3 separate regions of the Homo sapiens genome follow, and regions 2 and 3 are each linked to region 1. Evidence: fine-mapped expression QTL. A gene starts in region 1. Each other region holds a variant in brackets. All regions are shown on one strand. Distances are from middle to middle. Region 1 holds the start of LINC00173 (long intergenic non-protein coding RNA 173). Region 2 overlaps MAP1LC3B2 (microtubule associated protein 1 light chain 3 beta 2). Region 3 overlaps LOC105370003 (a long non-coding RNA gene).

Region 1 (6,205 bases):
TGGGATGGCAAACATTATTATTGTTACTATTATTTTGAGACAGAGTGTTGCTCTGTTGCCCAGGCTGGAGTGCAGTGGCACAATCTCGGCTCACTGCAATCTCCATCTCCCAGGGTCAAGCAAATTCTCCTGCCTCAGCCTCCCAAGTAGCTGGGACTACAGGCACACGCTACCACGCCCAGCTAATTTTTGTATTTTTAGTAAAGACGGGGCTTCACCATATTGGTCAAGCTGGTCTCGAACTCCTGACCTCAGGCAATCCACCCCGCTTGGCCTCCCAGAGTGCTGGGATTACAGGCGTGAGCCACTGTGCCCGGCGCAAACTTTTTTTTTTAACAGAAAATAACAAGTGTTGGTTGGCAAGGATGTAAAAAATTGGAGCCCTGGTGCACTGCTGGTGAAAATGTAAAATGGGCAGTCACTGAGGAAAATAGTGTGGCGGTTCTTTGACAAGCTAAACACAGAGTTACTGCAGAACCTAGCAGTTCCATTCCTAAGTATGTACCCCAAACAATTGAAAACAAAGGTTCAGGCCAGGCGCGGTGGCTCACACCTGTAATCCCAGCACTTTGGGAGGCCAAGGCAGGGGAATCAGGAGTTGAGGTCCTGACTGAGGTCAGGAGTTCGAGACCAGCCTGGCCAACGTGACAAAACCCCTTCTCTACCGAAAATACAAAAATTAGCCAGGCGTGATGGCGCACTCCTGTAATCCCAGCTACTCGGGGGGCTGAGGCAGGAGAATCGCTTGAACCCGGGAGGCAGAGGTTGCAGTGAGCCGAGATTGCGCCACTGAATTCCAGCCTGGGGAACAGAGGGAGACTCTGTCTCCAAAACATAAATAGATAGATAGATAAATAAACAAATAAATAAATGCAAATATTCAAATGAAAACTTACCCACAATTGTTCATAGAGCACTATTCACAATAGCCAAAAGGTGGAAACAACCCAAATGACCCCTAGCCAGTGAATGGATCAACAAAATGTGGTCCATCCAGGCAATGGAACAGCACTGAGCCATAAGAAGAAAGGAAGCACTGGCATGCGCTACAGCATGGATGAGCCTTGAACACATGATGCTGAGTGGGAGAAGCAGACACAAAGATTATATATCGTAGGATTCCACTTACATGAAATATCCAGAACAGGCAATCCATAGAGACAGAGAGCAGATTGGCAGCTGCCAGGGGCCAACGGGAGGGAAGAATGGGAAGTGACTGCTAATGGGTACCGAGATTCTGTTTGGGGTGATGGAAAACTTCTGGACCTGGCCAGGCATGGTGGCTCACCCCTGTAATCCCAGCAGTCTGGGAGGCCAAGGTGGGTGGATCACCTGAGGTCAGGAGTTCAAGACCAGCTTGGCCAACATGGTGAAACCCTGTCTCTACTAAAAATACAAAAATTAGCCAGGCGTGGTGGCAGGCACCTGTAATCCCAGCTACTCGGGAGGCTGAGGCAGGAGAATCACTTGAACCTGGGAGACAGAGGTTACAGTGAGCCAAGATCATGCCACTGCACTCCATCCTGGATGACAGAATGAGACTCTGCCTCCAAAAAACAAAACAAAACAAACAAATAAAAAAAAAAAAAAGATGGTGGCAGCTCACACCTGTAATCCCAGCAACTGGGGAAGCTAAGGCAAGAGGTGTGGCAGCTCACACCTGTAATCCCCAGCAACTGGGGAAGCTTGAGGCCAGGAGTTCAAGACTAGTCTGGGCAACATGATGAGATTTGATCTCTACAGAAATAAAAATAAAAATTAGCTGGGCATGGGGGCAAGCACCTGTGGTCCCAGCTACTCAAGAAGCTGAGGCAGGAGGATTGCTTGTGTCCAGGAATTCAAGGCTGCAGTGAGCTACGATCACACTGCTGCACTCCAGCCTGGGCAACAGAGGGAGACCATGTCTTTAAAAAAAAAAAAAAAAAAAAAAAAAAGATGGCGCTAGAGAGACAGTTGATACAGGGTATGGATGGTGACCATCATTGATCATCATGGCTGCTGGTGGGTAGTGGATGGGAGTGAGAACAGCATTAAGAGGAAGGCCAGTGATGAGGCGGGGACAGTGGTCCAGGAGGAAGATGCAGGTGGCCTGGACCAGGGGGCACACAGTGAGCCACGTGTGTCAGGCAAAACCAAGAGGGCTTAGTGAGGATCTGGATGCACAATCATTCAATATAGACTCAACTCTGCCCCTCCTATTCAGCACCTGTATGCACTTATGGATGGGAGGAGAGTGTTGGAGGGAGAAAGTATATGTTCTCATAGGGATGCTGAAGAACAGGTCAGAAGACCCCTGGCTTCAAATTTTGACTTTTTCATTGCCAGATCCCGAGAGAGTAACTTCGTTTCTTTGTGCCTGTGTTCCTTCCCCTGTAAAATCAAGGCCCCAACATGCACTTCATAGGTCGTTGTGAGACGGGGACAACAGCACCTGCCCTGGCTACCTCCTAGGGCTCTTGGGAGACCCAAATGAGTTGTTAATCCTTCAAGGACAACACAGATCACGTTGCTGGGCTGATGTCATTGCTTTTGGAAAGCAGGTCCCTTGAACAGATTCTCCCAAAGCAGTGACTTTAGGAACATCTCGAAGGCGACAGATTCCAGTTGTTAAGGCTACGATGAAATAGCAGAAGACTCTGGGAAGCAGCGTGCAACGAGTGGCAAAGGAGCCCCTAACGCTCTTTCTTCTGTGCTCGCCCCGCCCCCTCCGGCGTGGGCCCCGCCCCGACTAAGCCCCAGCCAGGCCCCGCCCCCGATGTTAGCGCAAGCCACGCCTCCTCAGCTCCCAGCCTTCTGGGTCCGAGGCTCCCACCTGCTCTAAGCGCTTGGTACCAGGGAGGGAATGGGAGGACGCTTGCGGGATAGGGAGGCGGGGGCTGGAAATTGGCAGGGTGAGAGCTGGGGAAACTAGTCTGGGACGCAGCCCTCCTTGTCCCCCTTCTTCATTCACCCCCTTGTTGAGGCCCTTGGCTTTTGCATAATGTAAGTACTTATTTAATGCGTGTGCTGGCTCGAGAGCTCTGCATTTGTCTTTCTGTCCTTCATATGCCAGTGTACCTCCGCCTTCTGTCTGTCTAGGTGGGAGCTCCTGGAGAGGAGGGTGCTTCCCAGCAGTTGCTGTTCGACCCCCAGCCCCGGGCCAAGGGCACAGAGAGAGAGACAGAGAGGCTGGGGCTGCAGTGGGGGTGGGGAGGTGGGAGCTGGGGCGGGGCGGAGGGAGCGAGGGGGAGGAATGAGAGCACCATATGACAGGCTTGTGGAACCACATCTGATGCCAACTTGGATGCTGTCCTTTTTCTCCAATAAAAGGAACTTTTCACTTGTTTTTCAGACACCCTTTAAAAAAATGTATTTAAAGAGGCTGGTTCCTATCCATCCGACTGGAGGCATCTCAGTGCAAGAGCAAAGCTAAGTCCTGCACACGCTCCTCCCCTCCTCCTCCTCCTTCTCCCCCCAGGTTTTCCCGAATGTATCTACTCCGGTTACAACTAGACGCGGCCCCTCCCCCACCTGCCTCCCCCCTTCCTTCCCTCGATCGTGGAGGGAGCGTTCTCTGTGCCTTCCCAAGTCCCCGTGGGGGACCTTCTATGTTGGAGTGGGGGGAGGGGGGGAGGGTCATATAACGAAGGCCAGAAAGAACAAATTAGATAATCAAAAGAATTATAGTAATTGCTTTCACTTTCCCCCGCCCGCTCAGCGGATTCCCTCCCCCGCCCCTCCCCTGGTTTTTCTGTCTGTCGGGAATACTCGGTCTTTCCGACCCCCTCCCCTCCCCCAGGTTCCTCCTCTCCTCTCCCCTTGCTCGCGCGTTCCCTCTCTTCCTCCGTTTTCTGGTGTGCTGGAACGTTCAGCGGAATATGATGAATGATCACCTGTCACAGCTTGTTTATTATAATGCAGGCAATCAATTACACATCCCCAATGCTGGCCGGCCCGCAGGAAATTTATATGCTCAGCACAAACCAATGTGAAAATGGAATCTCATTTGCCAAATGTCTTTCTCCCCGTACAGCACGATGATTACAGTCTGTGTTTGTTTCAACAGTCGTGTACAACTGACAGTGCCATCATTTACTGCCTGGCTCAGGTCACGTTACTCTAAGGCTTTATTTATGGTGTTACGAAGGGCAGCACAGGAAAAGGACAAGGGTGTCTGTCAGGGATGGCACTGTGTTAAAAAGTGGGCGTGCAAGGGCCGCATTCCCGGGCAGCCGCTGCAACCTCAGCCCCTGGGCCCTTACCTCCGCAGCCTCTCCCAGCATCCAGCTACCCAGACTCCAAGGCCCCAGGCGAGAGCCAGCTCTCGGTACCTGGAGCTCCACAGGTCCCAGAATCGGGGTGGATCAGAGTTCAAATTCTGGTTCTGCTACTGTCTAATTGCGTGCTGCAGGGACTCAATCTCTTCATCTGGGAAATGGGAGTAATAACCCTTGGCAGGAATGTTGCGATCCTCTGGGATGTCAGAGGTGTTGATGAATGTTAGTTCCCGGGACTTCGGAAAGAGGTCCCGTTGGAAGAGATGTGAATTGGAATTCACACCCTATATTAAAATCTCCTCCAATCTTCACCTCTGAGACATGGCTGTCTCAAGACTGTTTTGTTTCCCTTCCTGGTGGAATTTTGCACTTTTATGTCCTGTGTAGCAGCAGGTAGTGTGGCTTTGAGAAAATAAAATGGCCACCTTGCTCCGCTGTTCTTTCTTTGTAAAAAAAAAAAAAAAAAAAAAAAAACGGCATAGCAATCTTGGCCTTTCTAGCTGTGTGACCCCAGGCCGGTCAATCCCTCCTCCTCTCCAAGCCTCGGATTCCTCCCCTGAGAAGTAAAGAAAATAACTCCTAAACTGCCTCCCGAGGCTTGCTGGCAGGATCCAAGGTGTCCAGAGATGTTAAAAAAAAAAAAAAAAAAAAAAAAAAGCCCAGTAAATGGGAAAGTGAGGCTGTCACTGCTGAGTGGCATCCTGTTTTCAGGAGTTCTGGTTGGTCCCCAGAGTTCTGCTACACAAAATGTTGACCCAAATTTGTACCCCCACAACACTTGGTGTCAAGTGGGAGCTCAGAAACTGAGGGGCAGGCAGATGCTTTTATGTGTATTAGGTTGTCTTTTATTGTATTGTATAGTTCCTTTTTTTTTTTTTTTTTTTGAGATGGAGTCTTGCTCTATTGCCCAGGATGGAGTACAGTGGCACGATCTTGGCTCACTGCAACCTCCACCTCCTGGGTTCAAGCAATTCTCCTGCCTCAGCCTCTCAAGTAGCTGGGATTACAGGCACGTACCACCATGCCTGGCTAATTTTTGTAATTTTAGTAGAGACAGGTTTTCACCGTGTTGGCCAGGCTGGTCTCGAACTCCTGACCTCAACTGATCCACCCACCTCAGCCTCCCAAAGTGCTGGGATTACAGGCTTGAGCCACCGTGCCCAGCCTGTACTATATATTTCTTTATTATTTGACACGTGTATTTGTTTAATGGCCCTCTGCTCCACCAGTATGGAAGCTCCAAAAGGAAAGATACCAGATTGATCTTGATCACCTCTGCCTCCCCAGCACCTAGTCTTCCTTGGCACATCGTGAGTGCTCGGTAAATATCTGTGGCTTTAATGGATGAATGAATGAATGACTACATGGCTAAACTCCATTCTAGGGCAACATCTGTGGTGCAGTGGATGGGCCCTAGTGAATGGATATTTAACGGATATCGTACTATTCCTCATCTCCACAGGGTCAGGCTGTGCCACATCCACCCAGCCTTGCCTGGGGTCATTTATCCTACATGTACTCAGATCACGTGAACTGGTGATGGGCCACCCATGTGCCTGCCTGGAGACTCCTATTCACCCTTCAGATCAATATCCCCCAAATAAACTCCCAGTCACTCTGGCATCCCATGTTGCTTTGTGATCTCTGCCTCTCTCTAGACCATTTGGCTCCTATGCACAGGCAGCTATGTCTTTTTCATATTTGGGTCCCCAAAATGCACAGTGCGGTGCCTGCCTCAAAACAAATGCTTTTCAATCCGTCAATCAATCAGTTGACATGGATCATCTTTTCTCAGCACTGATGTATGGACTACAACTTGGAATTCCATTAAAGCTCCTGGGGTCAAGAAAAAAAGTGATTCAAGTTTATTTATTTATTTTTTTTTGAGACAGAGTCTCATTCTGTCGCCCAGGCTGGAGTGCAGTGGCACGATCTTGGCTCACTGCAAC
Region 2 (6,205 bases), 35 kb after region 1:
CATTTTATGAGCAACATCTAGACAATAACAAACTTCTCATCAGGCCAGAAATGCCAGTTTATAGCTCATCGAGAACAGAGATTCTCTGAGCCTGCCAATGTTCAAGGAAGATTTCCAGAGAATAAAACTTGCTTGGGGGTGAAGGGCAAGCTTGAACCTGTGTCCTGGGAACAAAACATGCAGCAAAATGCATTTCTTCTTTTCCCACTACTCATAACTACCAGGAGTTGGAAGCACCTTGCCTGAAAGAGAAGGTTGTGTTTTGTGTTTCAAGAGTGAGTCTGAGGTAGCTGCAGGCTAGATTATTAAGCAGATTAATTCAACCAAATATATTGACAAATGCACCAGCAGGTAAAGGAAGAAGATGTTCTCTGCTTAGATTGTTGTGAGGAAGTTTCTGTGTCCCCACTCTGCCTAGAGGCTAATCAGATATGTGTGTGTGTGTGTAACCTCTACAAAACAAAACACCCCAAATCCTTAAAATATCCACAAATGTTGTTTTCTTGTATGATCATACCCATTTCAGAGATGAAAAATCTGAGATACAGTACGTGGAACTGTGAGTCAGTGATTAAAAAAAAAAAAAAAAAAAAAAACAAGAATTGAGGCCAGGTGTGGTCACTCATGTCTGTAATCCAAGCACTTTAGGAGACCGAGTCAGGCAGATCACCTGAGGTCAGGAGTTCGAGACCAGCCTGGCCAACATGGTGAAACCCTGTCTCTACTAAAATACAAAAATGTGCTGGGCGTGGTGGTGGGCACCTGTAGTCCCAGCTACTCAGGAGGCGGAGGCAGGAAAATTGCTTGAATCCAGGAGGTAGAGGTTGCAGAGAGCCAAGATCGTGCCACTGCATTCCAGTCTGGGCCACAGAGTGAGACTCTGTCTCAAAAAAAAAAAAAAAAAAAAAAAAAAAAAAAAAAAAAAAAAGAATTGAGTTCAAAACTGCAGGATAAAACTTTTCTGTATGTCTTGAGAATAATTTTGAAAGCAAGAGAAACGGAAAGGAAGAGAAGGGAGAGGGAGGGGAAAGGACAAAGGAGGTAAGGAAAGCAAGTTAGCTCTTTGGCTAATTCATGTCTTCAAAGGTGCCTGGGTTTTTGGAGATTTAGAGTGCTGAGAGATGCTGTTTGCACACCACCAAGATTCAAATTGAAATTATAGGCAAGTAAAAGCACCTCCTATCCCATGGCTAACTCCTTTCTCCAGCTTTACATGTTAGCTATGTCCACCCTCAGGTTCTCAACTTAGAAAGAAGTCTTTTTATTCCTTGAGGGGATTTATTTCTTTCTCAAGAAAGAAATCATGGTAATTTCATGCTGATTGAGAAAAGACCAAAATGAGCTTATAAAATTAATTCCTGGGAGAGTTTTAGTCACTTGTATCTTGTTGACTGCTTTGCAAATCTTTTTTTTTTTTTTTTTGGCCAGGCACGGTGGCTCACGCCTGTAGTCCCAGTACTTTGGGAGGCCGACGTGGGTGGATCACTTGAGGTCAGGAGTTTGAGACCAGCCTGGCCAACATGTTGACTCCAGGTCTCTACTAAAAATACAAAAATCAGCCAGGTGTGGTGGCACATGCCTGTAATCCCAGCTACTCAGGAGGTTGAGGCAGGAGAATTGCTTGAACCCCAGAGGTGGAGTTTGCAGTGAGCCGAGATTGTGTCACTGCACTCCAGCCTGGGTGACAGAGTGAGACTCTGTCTAAAAAATAAAAATAAAAAAATATATATATATATGTAAACCCTCTAAGGGTTTCGGTTGCCAGGAGAGAAGAAAATGGAACCCAAAACACTTAGAGGAGGAATGACAGACTCATTTTATAGAACAGTGGGAAGGGATTTGGGGATTAGGAAAACCTTCTGGGGAAGTGTCTGGAGCCTGCGAGTTCTTGAAAAGGACAAACGATCATGTTCCCCATTGTGTTTCAGATGCCCAGCACAATGCCTGATCTGCACTAGGTGTTCAGTAAATTATTTGTTGAACGAAAGAATGATTAAGTGAGTAAATGTGAATCTCCAGTCAGGCCTAACCTATGTTTTTGCCAAACCAGACTCCAATGCCTTGATAGCTTTGCAGCTCTTTTTCCATTCTTTGTCGTCCTGGCAATTGTCTCTGATCCTTTCAAGGCAATAGATGCGACCCTTTGTGGATTATGAACATCTCTGAGAATCTGCTGAGAGTAACAGGCCCTTTTCTCAAAAAAAAGAATGCACAGACACGTACACACAATTTGGCATATCTTTTCAAGTGAGCGAATGCCCTGAACCTCACATGTGGCCACAGCCTAACAATCTCTGGAGCTTTTCCCACTCTTCTTCCTGTCTCTCTGCCCTGCAGACTTATTTGCTCCTTCACTGGGTCCTCATAGCACTTTTTAAAATCTTTTCAGTTTTTAGCTTAAAACAACATGTACTTTATTCACAAGTCTGTAATTTGTGCAGAGCTTGGGGGATGCCCTCTGGCTCCACTTCAGGCTGGGGCTGGAATCACCTGAAGGATTACTGCATGGTTTGAATGTGTCCCCCAAATTTCATGTACTGGAAACTTAGATCTCCAAGTTCATATGTTGATGGTATTTGGATGTGGGGCCTTTAGGAGGTAATTAGGATTAGATAAAGTCATCAGGGTGCAGCCCCCATGATGGGACTGGTGGCTTTATGAGCAGAGGAGGAGAGGCCTGAGCTGACACACATATTCTTGCCCTTTCATCATGTGATGCCCTCCACCATGTTATGATGCAGCAGGAAGGCCCTTGCCAGACACTGGCACCCTGATATTGGACTTCCCAGCCTCTAGAACTGTAAGAAATAAATTTCTTTTCTTTCTTTTTTTTTTTTTTGAGACAGAATCTCTGTCTCCCAGGCTGGAGTGCAGTGGCGCATCTCCACTCACTGCAAGCTTCGCCTCCTGGGTTCACGCCATTCTCCTGCCTCAGCCTCCTGCGTACCTGGGATTACAGGCACCC[A/G]CCACCACGCCTGGCTAACTTTTTGTATTTTTTTTAGTAGAGATGGGGTTTCACGGTGTTAGCCAGGATGGTCTCGATCTCCTGACCTCATGATCCGCCCACCTCGGCCTCCCAAAGTACTGGGATTACAGGTGTGAACTACCGCGCCCGGCCAATTTCTTTTCTTTATAAATTTCTTTTCTCTAGAAATTACCCAGTCTATGATATTCTGTTATAGTAGCAGAACACAGACTAAGACAATTGCTCACTCACCTGTCCAGAAGCTGTCCAGAGATTGATGCTGAAGAGACCTAAACAGTGGGGAGCTAAAATAGCTGGGGGTCCTCAGGCATCTCCTCCTGTCTCTATGTGGTCTTTCTATGCATTCTCTCTGGCTTATCCAGAGCACTTTAAACATACCTCTCTTACTACTTAACCCACAACGTAGTAGTTGTTATTTGGGCCTGTGGATTGTGGCAATGTACTTAACATCTGTTTCATTGGCAAAACTGTAAATCCTTCAAGGACAAGGACCATAACTTGTTCATCTCTATTTCCTTAAGACCCTAGCAGCTACCTTGTATGTAACTATGTATTTAATATATGCTAGTTGGAATATGCACGTAGGTATGTGTTTATTTTATCATGATGTCCCACTACATTTCAACAAAGAAGTAGAATGGCGCTTATATACATACCTCAATACAACAAAATAAAAATGCAAATCAAAGAAATGGGGATAAAGTAAAAATAAAGCTAGGAAAAATGTTAAAATAAAAGATAACAGGCCAGGCATGGTGGCTCGCTCCTGTAATCCCAGCACTCTGGCAGGCCTAGGTGGGCAGATCACAAGGTCAAGAGATCGAGACCATCCTGGCCAACATGGTGAAAACCTGTCTCTACTAAAAATACAAAAATTAGCTGGGCATGGTGGCACGCACCTGTAGTCCCAGCTACTTGGGAGGCTGAGACAGGAGAATTGGTTGAACCCAGGAGTCAGAGGTTGCAGGGAGCCGAGATCGCGCCACTGCACTCCAGCCTGGCCACAGAGTGAGACTCCATCTCAAAAATAAAATAAAATAAAATAAAATCACTACCCAAAATGCATACCCACAAAGTTGTATATCATTATTGTCAGTGGCTCAGAAGAAGGGGCAAAGAGGGAAATACCCTCATTACTAAAGTTCACAGGGTTGCATACAGATGATCCTCAATTTACAATGGCTCAACTTATAATTTTTCAACTTTATGATGGTGCAAAAGTAACATGCATTCAGTAGAAACTGTACTTCAAGTACCCATACAGCCATTCTGCTTTTTGCTGTTAGTACAGCATTCAATAAACATGAGATATTCAACACTTTATTATAAAATAGGCTTTGTGTTAGATGATTTTGCCCAACTGTAGGTTAATATAAGTGTTCTGAGCTTGTTTAAAGTAGGCTAGGTGATATGGTTGGGCTGTGTCTCCACCCAAATCTTGTCTTGAATTGTAGCTCCCATCATTCCCATGTGTTGTGGGGGAACTCAATGGGAGGTAATTGAATCATGGGGGCAGTTTCCCCCATACTGTTCTGGTGGTAGTGAGTAAGTCTCACGAGATCTGATGGTTTTATAAGGGGTTCCCCCTTTCACTTGGCTCTCATTCTCTCTTGCCTGCTGCCATGTAAGATGTGCCTTTTGCCTTCCACCATGATTGTGAGGCCTCCCCAGCCACGTGGAACCTCTTTTCTTTATAAATTACCCAGTCTTGGGTAAGTCTTTATCAGCCACATGAAAACAAAGTAATACTCTAGGCTAAGCTATGATGTTTGGTAGGTTAGGTGAATTAAATGCATTTTCAACGTATGATAGGTTTACCAGGATGTATTAATAAGTCGAGAAGCACCTGTGTAAGGCAACTGATCACTTGGGAAAACACAGTTTGTGTGAGTAACAAGGTATATAAGAAATGTTCTTCTATCGGTTGCAATTTTATTGCAACTTCCTTGTGATAAAAATGATAGCATATTTATACCATGATTTCTCTGTAATGTGCCTCAATTCAGGTTAAGGGAGGTTCAATACAAGAAAATCTACAAGTGGCCAAAACAAACGGCTTAAAGCTGCAATTCTGTAAGGGTCTGATTTTATCTAAGGACATATTTAAGACCATGTAGTCCAGCTTTTTCTGAAGAGTACACTATGGAATAACAATCTTGGAAAAGCTCTGCCCATAATGGCTTCTGTGGTTGAGGAAAGGTGGGAAACCCACTCACGTCTTCCTCTTGGAAGTGCACAGTAAAACACTAGCATTTTAAAGGCTCTGAGAAGTCCTGCAGTAAGGAAACCCAGCATTTGCCAGGTTTCTCTGACTACTGTTGTGCAAGAACCTTGGGGCAGTCTCAAAATGTGACCTAGGTCCACTGATCCTACCATGAAATGAATTTTTCCTTCTCGTGAGAATAGATGGGAGTAAGGGACTGCTGTTCTTTTTTTTTTTTTTTTTTTTTTTTTTTTTTTTTTTTTTTTGAGACGGAGTCTCATTCTGTCGCCCAGGCTGGGGTGCAGTGGGGCGATTTCTGCTCACTGCAAGCTCCGCCTCCCGGGTTCATGCCATTCTCCTGCCTCAGCCTCCCGAGTAGCTGGGACTACAGGTGCCCACCACCACACCCAGCTAATTTTTTTGTATTTTTAGTAGAGACGGGATTTCACCGTGTTAGCCAGGATGGTCTCGATCTCCTAACCTCGTGATCCGCCTGTCTCGGCCGCCCAAAGTGCTGGGATTACAGACGTAAGCCACCGCGCCCGGCCACGGACTGCTATTCTTAGGGACGTTATTCTGAACTGTCTCTCCTTTGTCCTAAAAAGACCTAGGAGAGAAACAAAGTAATGTCCGCGAAGTTCCTGCTTAAAGCAACTGTTGTTTTTTTTTTTAATGGTCATAGCTGTAGAAAACAACATACTTCTTGTTTGTTTTCTATAGCTATGACCGTTACAAAAAAAAAAAGGGTTAGGGAGAAACTTGTCCTCTTACATTGCAAATAAAGGAAAAGAAGGGTGTGATTGAATGTTACCGAGAGTTCACAATTTCTGCCGCTAAGAAAATAAAAAAGAGTCCTCTCTATAGACATCAGACAAGACCTTTAGATTATCCATAACCTTGATCATAAAATGATCGACACTTGCTCAGGCCAATCAGAAAACCAAAGAGTTGTACCTTCAGCAGATAGATTGCCAGAAGCAGCACGGGCATCGTCTATTTGTTTTGGTATTGCATAT
Region 3 (6,205 bases), 820 kb before region 1:
AACACAGGTTTAAACAGGCTCTCTATAGAAGAGTTTACCAAGTCACATCTGGATAGAGTGACTGATTCATTCCAAGACCTTTAGTCTTGAAAGTCTTTCATCCTGGGAAACCCGTCAGTCCTAGGTACACCAGGATGATGGTTAACTTTCCTTGGGGTCAAGATGATGGTTCCAGCTCTGATTCCCTCAATGCACCTAGGCCTGGTGAGGGAGAGTTTATGAGTATGAACGTGCAGCTTTTCTAGGACTTAGAAACTTCTCTGACATGGAGAAAATGAGGCAACAGAGAGAGAGGCAGAAGCGCTGGCCAAAGTGTCAAAAACTCTGGCTCTGCTACAAATTCACTGCTTAAACCTGGAATCCAGCCATGTGCTTCTCTTATCCACTAAAAATAAATGGGATGGGGTTAACTTTCTCTGAAAGTCTTTCATCTGTCATGCCAATATCTAGCCTTCCACTTATCCATCCATAATATAGTATTGTGGTTGGCTGCCCAGATTTGAATACCTGCTCTGACTTTCTAGCTGTGTAACCTTAGGTAAGTTATTCACCTCTTTGAGCTTCAGTCCCCTCATCTTTAAAGTAGAGATAAAAATGGGAATCCACTTCACAGTACACGGAAGCTATTTATAATGGGGCTTTGGCATTTGGAAAATGTTCTGTAAATATCGGTTGATATTATATCAATGCTCTTTGTAAACCAATTTGTTTCACTTAGTAAATATTAACTGAATACAGTAGATGTGACACCAGAGACAGAATGAACAAAATCCTCACAGCCCTTGCCTCTTTCACATGAAAAAGCCCAATTTCAAAATCCAGATGAATTAACGACCAACTCCTTCCCTTCTGAAGTTGAGATTAAAGAGAGTGAGAGAGGCAAAGAAAGAGGGAGAGGCCGAGCTCTCCCTAGTGCATGAGCCAAAACATACATCCTGCTCTGCATGGCCAGCCATAAATCCATTGCTCGGTGAGGGTTCTTCCCAGCTAGCATGGCGACCGTTCGGAATATGCAGTATTCCTCCACAACTGGCTGTAATTACCAGCCAGATAATTACCCAGCCAACCCACTTCCCTTGCATATCTCTCAGCAAGCAGGGAACAGCACAAGAAAAAAAAGAAAGAAAAAAAAAAAACCTTCCTCTGTTCTTGTGAGCCTCCGAGCCTCCTAGCTAGGCCAACTTCAGGAGGTCGCTGCCAAAAGCACTCCCTCGGGAATACACTGGGTTGCCGAGCTGAGCGTGCCAATGCCTTAAATTGTTTTATGTTTTTTGTCTCTATGAATTAGAAACCATTAAGAGAAGGCCACCCAAGGAAACCAAGCACAAAATATATTTGGTTACAGATGGATGGGAGAGGTTTGTTCTTGCTTTTTTTTTTTTGCCTTTTTCTTCCCCTGAAGAGAGCAAGTACAATTTTTTTTTCTTTTTTGCATGGCTGATACTTTTGGAGCCAGGATCTTGGAGCCCAAAGAGTGTAAAGAGCACATCCTCCTGGGTGTGGAGGAGATGTTTCTTCTATAAACATCCTTGCCAAAGCAGCTGGGCTTGGCCCCGGATACTCCTCTCATATACATAGTCAAGGCAACCTTGGGAAGCATGAAAATCCTGGTGAATCAGCTGCAAATACTGGCAAGGGAAAGATACACTGCTGAGGCGGTAGCTGCATCTGTATGAGCTTCTGCTCAGATCCCCAACCAGCACCACCCCCATGTGACCAATGACTCACCACCATTCCAATTCCCAGTTAAGCAAGTAGATTCTGGAGTAAGTAACCTGAGTGCAAAATCCTGCATCTTCCTCTTACCATGTGAGCAAGTTATGCAACCTCTCTGTGCCTCAGTTTTCTCATCTGTAAAATGGGGAGAATAAGGGTACTACCTCATGCGGTTGATGTCAGGATTAAATGAGGTGATGTTTAGCGAAGTACATAGCACCTGTATGTGACCAATAAGTGTTACCTACTATTAAAAGTTACTTAACTCCCCTGTTAAATGAGCTATAGCTCAGTTTGCATAGCATTAAAATGGGGATTCTTTGGGGGTTTCTTGTAAGGATTAATTTGATGACATTTTATAGATCTGATCCCAATTCCAAAATAAATATTTTGGGCCCAGAACTGTACTGAATAGTCTATGTACATTATCTTATTAGATCCTTATATTAATTTGGAAAACTCAGCATTATTTGTCTATTGAGAAAATTAAGCCTCAGATAAGTCATGAGTTTGAAATTTCTCTCATGCCAAATTTGTCAGATTAGAAAGATTAGATGTCTGATTGCACCTACAAAGACAGATGACGTAAAGTAAGGTTGGATGTAAGTAAGTCTCCCCCTAGGATGGGAGTGTACAAATGCTTATTAGGGATCATTCTTGCTTTTCTTTCCTTCCATATTCTCTGAACAAACCTTGTGTCTAATTTGGCTTCCTTGTCTCAGGATTGGGAAAGCCAAAATAGCAGACTTAAGTTTGTGATAAGAAAGAATAATTATGCACCATCAATTACCCAATTAGAGTCTGGTTGCTACCTCAGTCTTATGGAAATGTGGTGGAGATGTTATCACTTGCCCAGATTCTCATCAACTTGTTTACACTGATCAAATCAAGTTTCTGGGGTATATTAACCCCACAAACGAACTTCGGCCACCATCATTATCGCCACCATCACCATGAGATCTCTACCATTATCA[C/G]CAACACCAATTCCACCATTACTATGATCTCCACCACCATTACTCCACACCACTTTCCACCATCACCATAACCATCGCCACAATCACTATCACCCCACCACCACTACTTTACTAATTCTACCACCATCAGAATCACCATCTCCTCCACAACCTCCACCTCCCTCACCAACATCATCATCACCATCTCTACCCACCACCACCATAGTATCTCCACCATCACCACCATCCCCACTACACTATGACCATCACCATCACCACCACAACCATCATCTCTACCACCATATCACCCCAGGAGTCCTTAGCTGAACAAAATCTAAATTTTGGAGACAAGAAAGAGTTTAATTTAGAAGTTGGGCAATTGGGTGCATTAGCAAGAGTACATCACACTCAGTGTGTGACCCCATACATCTTCCCCTGAAGTAGTGAGCTTTTCTTCCAATCCACAGCTCCCTTTGCATTATCTGAGCTTGAGCTTCAGCCAAACCAGATGTCAGTTAAAGACAATAGATAACAGATGCTACCCAGAAAGATGTCTACAGGAAGAACATGTGTCTTAGAGTGAAACATGGATTTGAACCTAGCTCTACCACTTACCATCTCAACACCCACAAGCAAGAGCCTAAACTCCTCTAACACTCAGTTTCCTCATCTGTAAAATATGGAAAATAATTCCTGCCTTAGCAGATTTGAGTTGCAATTACATGAGTACCATGGCCAAACACCATGTTTAGCATATATTAGACTCTCAATAAATACTTAATCATATTATTAAACCAAGATGTCTAAAGAGCCTTATTCTCTACACACTCCCACTGAATACAGTTTTATTAGAAGCAAAATAGCAGCTCACTATCCTGGAGCCAACAAGAAAGAAGTTAATTCTGGAGAAATTAAAACATTTGAAACATTTAAAATGAAGGTCTCTTGTTTTTATTGTAAAAGAAACATGCTGTAAATTACAACACAGTCAGATGTACAAAGGAGATGCACCTTATTAGAAATGCAATCTCCCAAGAAGGGGTCATTTGGTGTGATGGAGAACACACAAACTCACAGTGTAATTCATTTGAGTTGACAAGCCCAAACTGGTACAGGTTGAGTATTCCGTATCTGAAATGCTTGGAACCAGAAGCATTTTGGATTTTGAAATTTTCTTTAGATTTTGGAATATTTGTACTATGCTTACCAGTTCAGCATCCCTAATTTGAAAATCCAAAACCCAAAATGCTCCAATGAGAATGTCCTTGGAGCGTAACGTGGGTGCTCAAAAAGTTTCAGATTTTGGAGCATTCTGGGTTTTGGATTTTCGAATTAGGGATGCTCAACCTGTATGAGTAAAAAGCTCTCTTCTATCCTCAGTCTTGCTTCTTGTTTTATTTCTCTTAGATTTTTTTTCCTCTCTGTGTCAAAAAAGAAAAGCTCATGGCTTCATCAAGGAAGTGAAATTCTCATTTTCCTAGACAGTTCTTACAGAGCACGGAGTTTATTGCCCTGTAATCAAAGGACTCCACCTGGAGCTCAAACACGGGTAGATGATGTGACAAGAAGATAGAAACAGAGCTGGAAGTTTGAGCTACCTTCCTTCCTACCCACACAATGAGAAGATCATCCGGATGCTCTAACAGGGCTTTGCTAACTACAGGTTCAATGTACCTAGGGGAAAAAAGAGGCAAAAACTAATCAGGGAAGATAAACCAGAAGGCTGCTAAGTTTTCATCAGTCAATGGCTAATGGACAAAAAGAGAAAAATGTCCTGAGTTGTTCATATAGTACTCAGTACAAAAGTACTCAATACAAAAAACTGACCTTTATTGTAAGATTCTGTTCTTTCTATATTTATTGTTATTAAAAATTCTCTTTGGCAATGGAACAAGAGCAATTCATGCCAGCCAGTCTTTCTTCTCCTTCCCCTACCAGCTATAAGGATCACTTTTCCCAATGTCTTTCCTTCTTTATCCAGAGAACGAGTTCTGCCTTTGTTAGATAATTGGACTAGGGTGCAGGAAGGAGCTTTCTTGATGCTGAACCAGAGGAAGGGAGGAACAGACCACTGCCACCAGAAAGAAAAGTGGGGAAAGGACTGAGAAGGTGGGAGGGTAAGCCAATCTGCATGGCAAACAGCTAGAAACACACGGGGAAGGAAGAGGGAGAAAGTTAAAGCCCTGCAGAAGGGGGTTGAGAAGATTTGGAAAGTTTGGGTGCAAAAACTTGGGGAGATAAGAAGGGAGAAAATGGGTTTTAAGAATTGGTCATGGACCAGGCGTGGTGGCTCACGCCTGTAATCTCAGCACTTTGGGATGCCCAGGTGGGTGGATCACAAGGTCAGGAGTTAGAGATCAGCCTGGCCAATATGGTGAAACCTTGTCTCTACTAAAAATACAGAAAAAATTAGCTGGGCGTGATGGTGCATGCCTGTAATCCCAGCTACTCAGGAGGCTGAGGCAGGAGAACTGCTTGAGACAAGGAGGCGGAGGTTGCAGTGAGCCGAGATCGTGCCATTGCACTCCAGCCTGGGGGACAGAGCTAGACTGCATCTCAAAAAAAAAAAAAAAAAAAAAAAAAAAAGAATTGGTCATTATGTCATTTAAAAACTAAGATGACTTTAGATGGGAAGATACTCTGTAGATGCTACTTCTTTGAAAGCAGCTTCACTTCAGAACTAAAACTTTTGAGCCACAGTTTTAATCAAGTGCCACATTTACAAACTGATAGTAATTGCAGATAGCAATTTTTAAAATGTTACCTAACTTGGCAAACAAAAGAGTTGGCAAACTTTTGTCAGCCTCCCAACCCAACGAGTTTTAGAATTGCTTTCAAATTTTACAAAGCATTGCTTTGGCACACCAAGTTGACTTTTCTCCAGGGACGATTCCTTTTATTCTGGTTATAATGGGATCTCTTCCTAGAAGAAAGCAGGAGGATAAACCACCTTCTGAGTTTAGTTAATATAAACAGTCTCTTAATACATTTTAAAAAGCTGATTATTGACTTATAAAAGTCTACATGATCCCAGGTTTTGAAGTAATGGAAATGAACATTTAATGTTTGCAAGTAACTTCCACAGGCCAGGCACAGGCTAAGGTACTTTGTGTGCCTTACTTAGGGAAACAGAGAAGGAGGGCATGAGACCTTCATAAAGGGGGAATTATGTTTGATGGAATACAGAGGAGGCAGGAAGAGAAAGGGGTCCAGGACGACTCCTGAATTTTTGTTCTGATCTACTGAATTGACAATGGGACATTCCTTACGCTAAGGGACGTTACGGAAGAGAAAATTCGGGAAGTGGGGAAAAAATAAGTTAGATTTGAGACCTGTAGGATCCCCAGTGCCTGACAGATAGACAAGTGCCAATGTCCAGGAAGCTTTGGGATAGGTGGATTTGAAGAAAAGATACAGAATAAGAGATCTGAATTTAGACATCAACCCTAAAGATAGTCCCAGACAAGACTTAAATTGGTATTGAGATTTACCCGACATCCCACCACCCTCTCTTCTTGTTCAAGTTTGGAAATCTT

What was found. PIP is the estimated chance that this variant, and not a neighbour inherited with it, causes the effect.
Region 2: its variant is the best candidate, but not a certain one, in a credible set for the expression of LINC00173 in unexposed skin (GTEx, PIP 0.86).
Region 3: its variant is the best candidate, but not a certain one, in a credible set for the expression of LINC00173 in naive CD4 T cells (Schmiedel 2018, PIP 0.77).

Annotation. Positions count from the first base shown.
Region 1 is chr12:116,530,635-116,536,839 of GRCh38, forward strand. LINC00173 (long intergenic non-protein coding RNA 173) reads left to right here and starts at 2,801. Exons shown (of 3, transcript NR_027346.1): 1 at 2,801-2,982; 2 at 5,486-5,577; 3 at 5,719-5,879. RefSeq lists silencers at 2,612-2,813, 2,718-2,767 and an enhancer at 4,176-4,710.
Region 2 is chr12:116,566,044-116,572,248 of GRCh38, forward strand. The region is part of intron 1 of MAP1LC3B2 (microtubule associated protein 1 light chain 3 beta 2); the gene reads left to right. Among named protein-coding and RNA genes, the nearest start is that of MAP1LC3B2, 9.8 kb to the left of the region's middle. The variant A/G (reference allele first, on the strand shown) is at 2,966.
Region 3 is chr12:115,708,676-115,714,880 of GRCh38, forward strand. The region is part of intron 1 of LOC105370003 (a long non-coding RNA gene); the gene reads right to left. Among named protein-coding and RNA genes, the nearest start is that of LINC02463, 170 kb to the right of the region's middle. RefSeq lists an enhancer at 1,529-1,823. The variant C/G (reference allele first, on the strand shown) is at 2,691.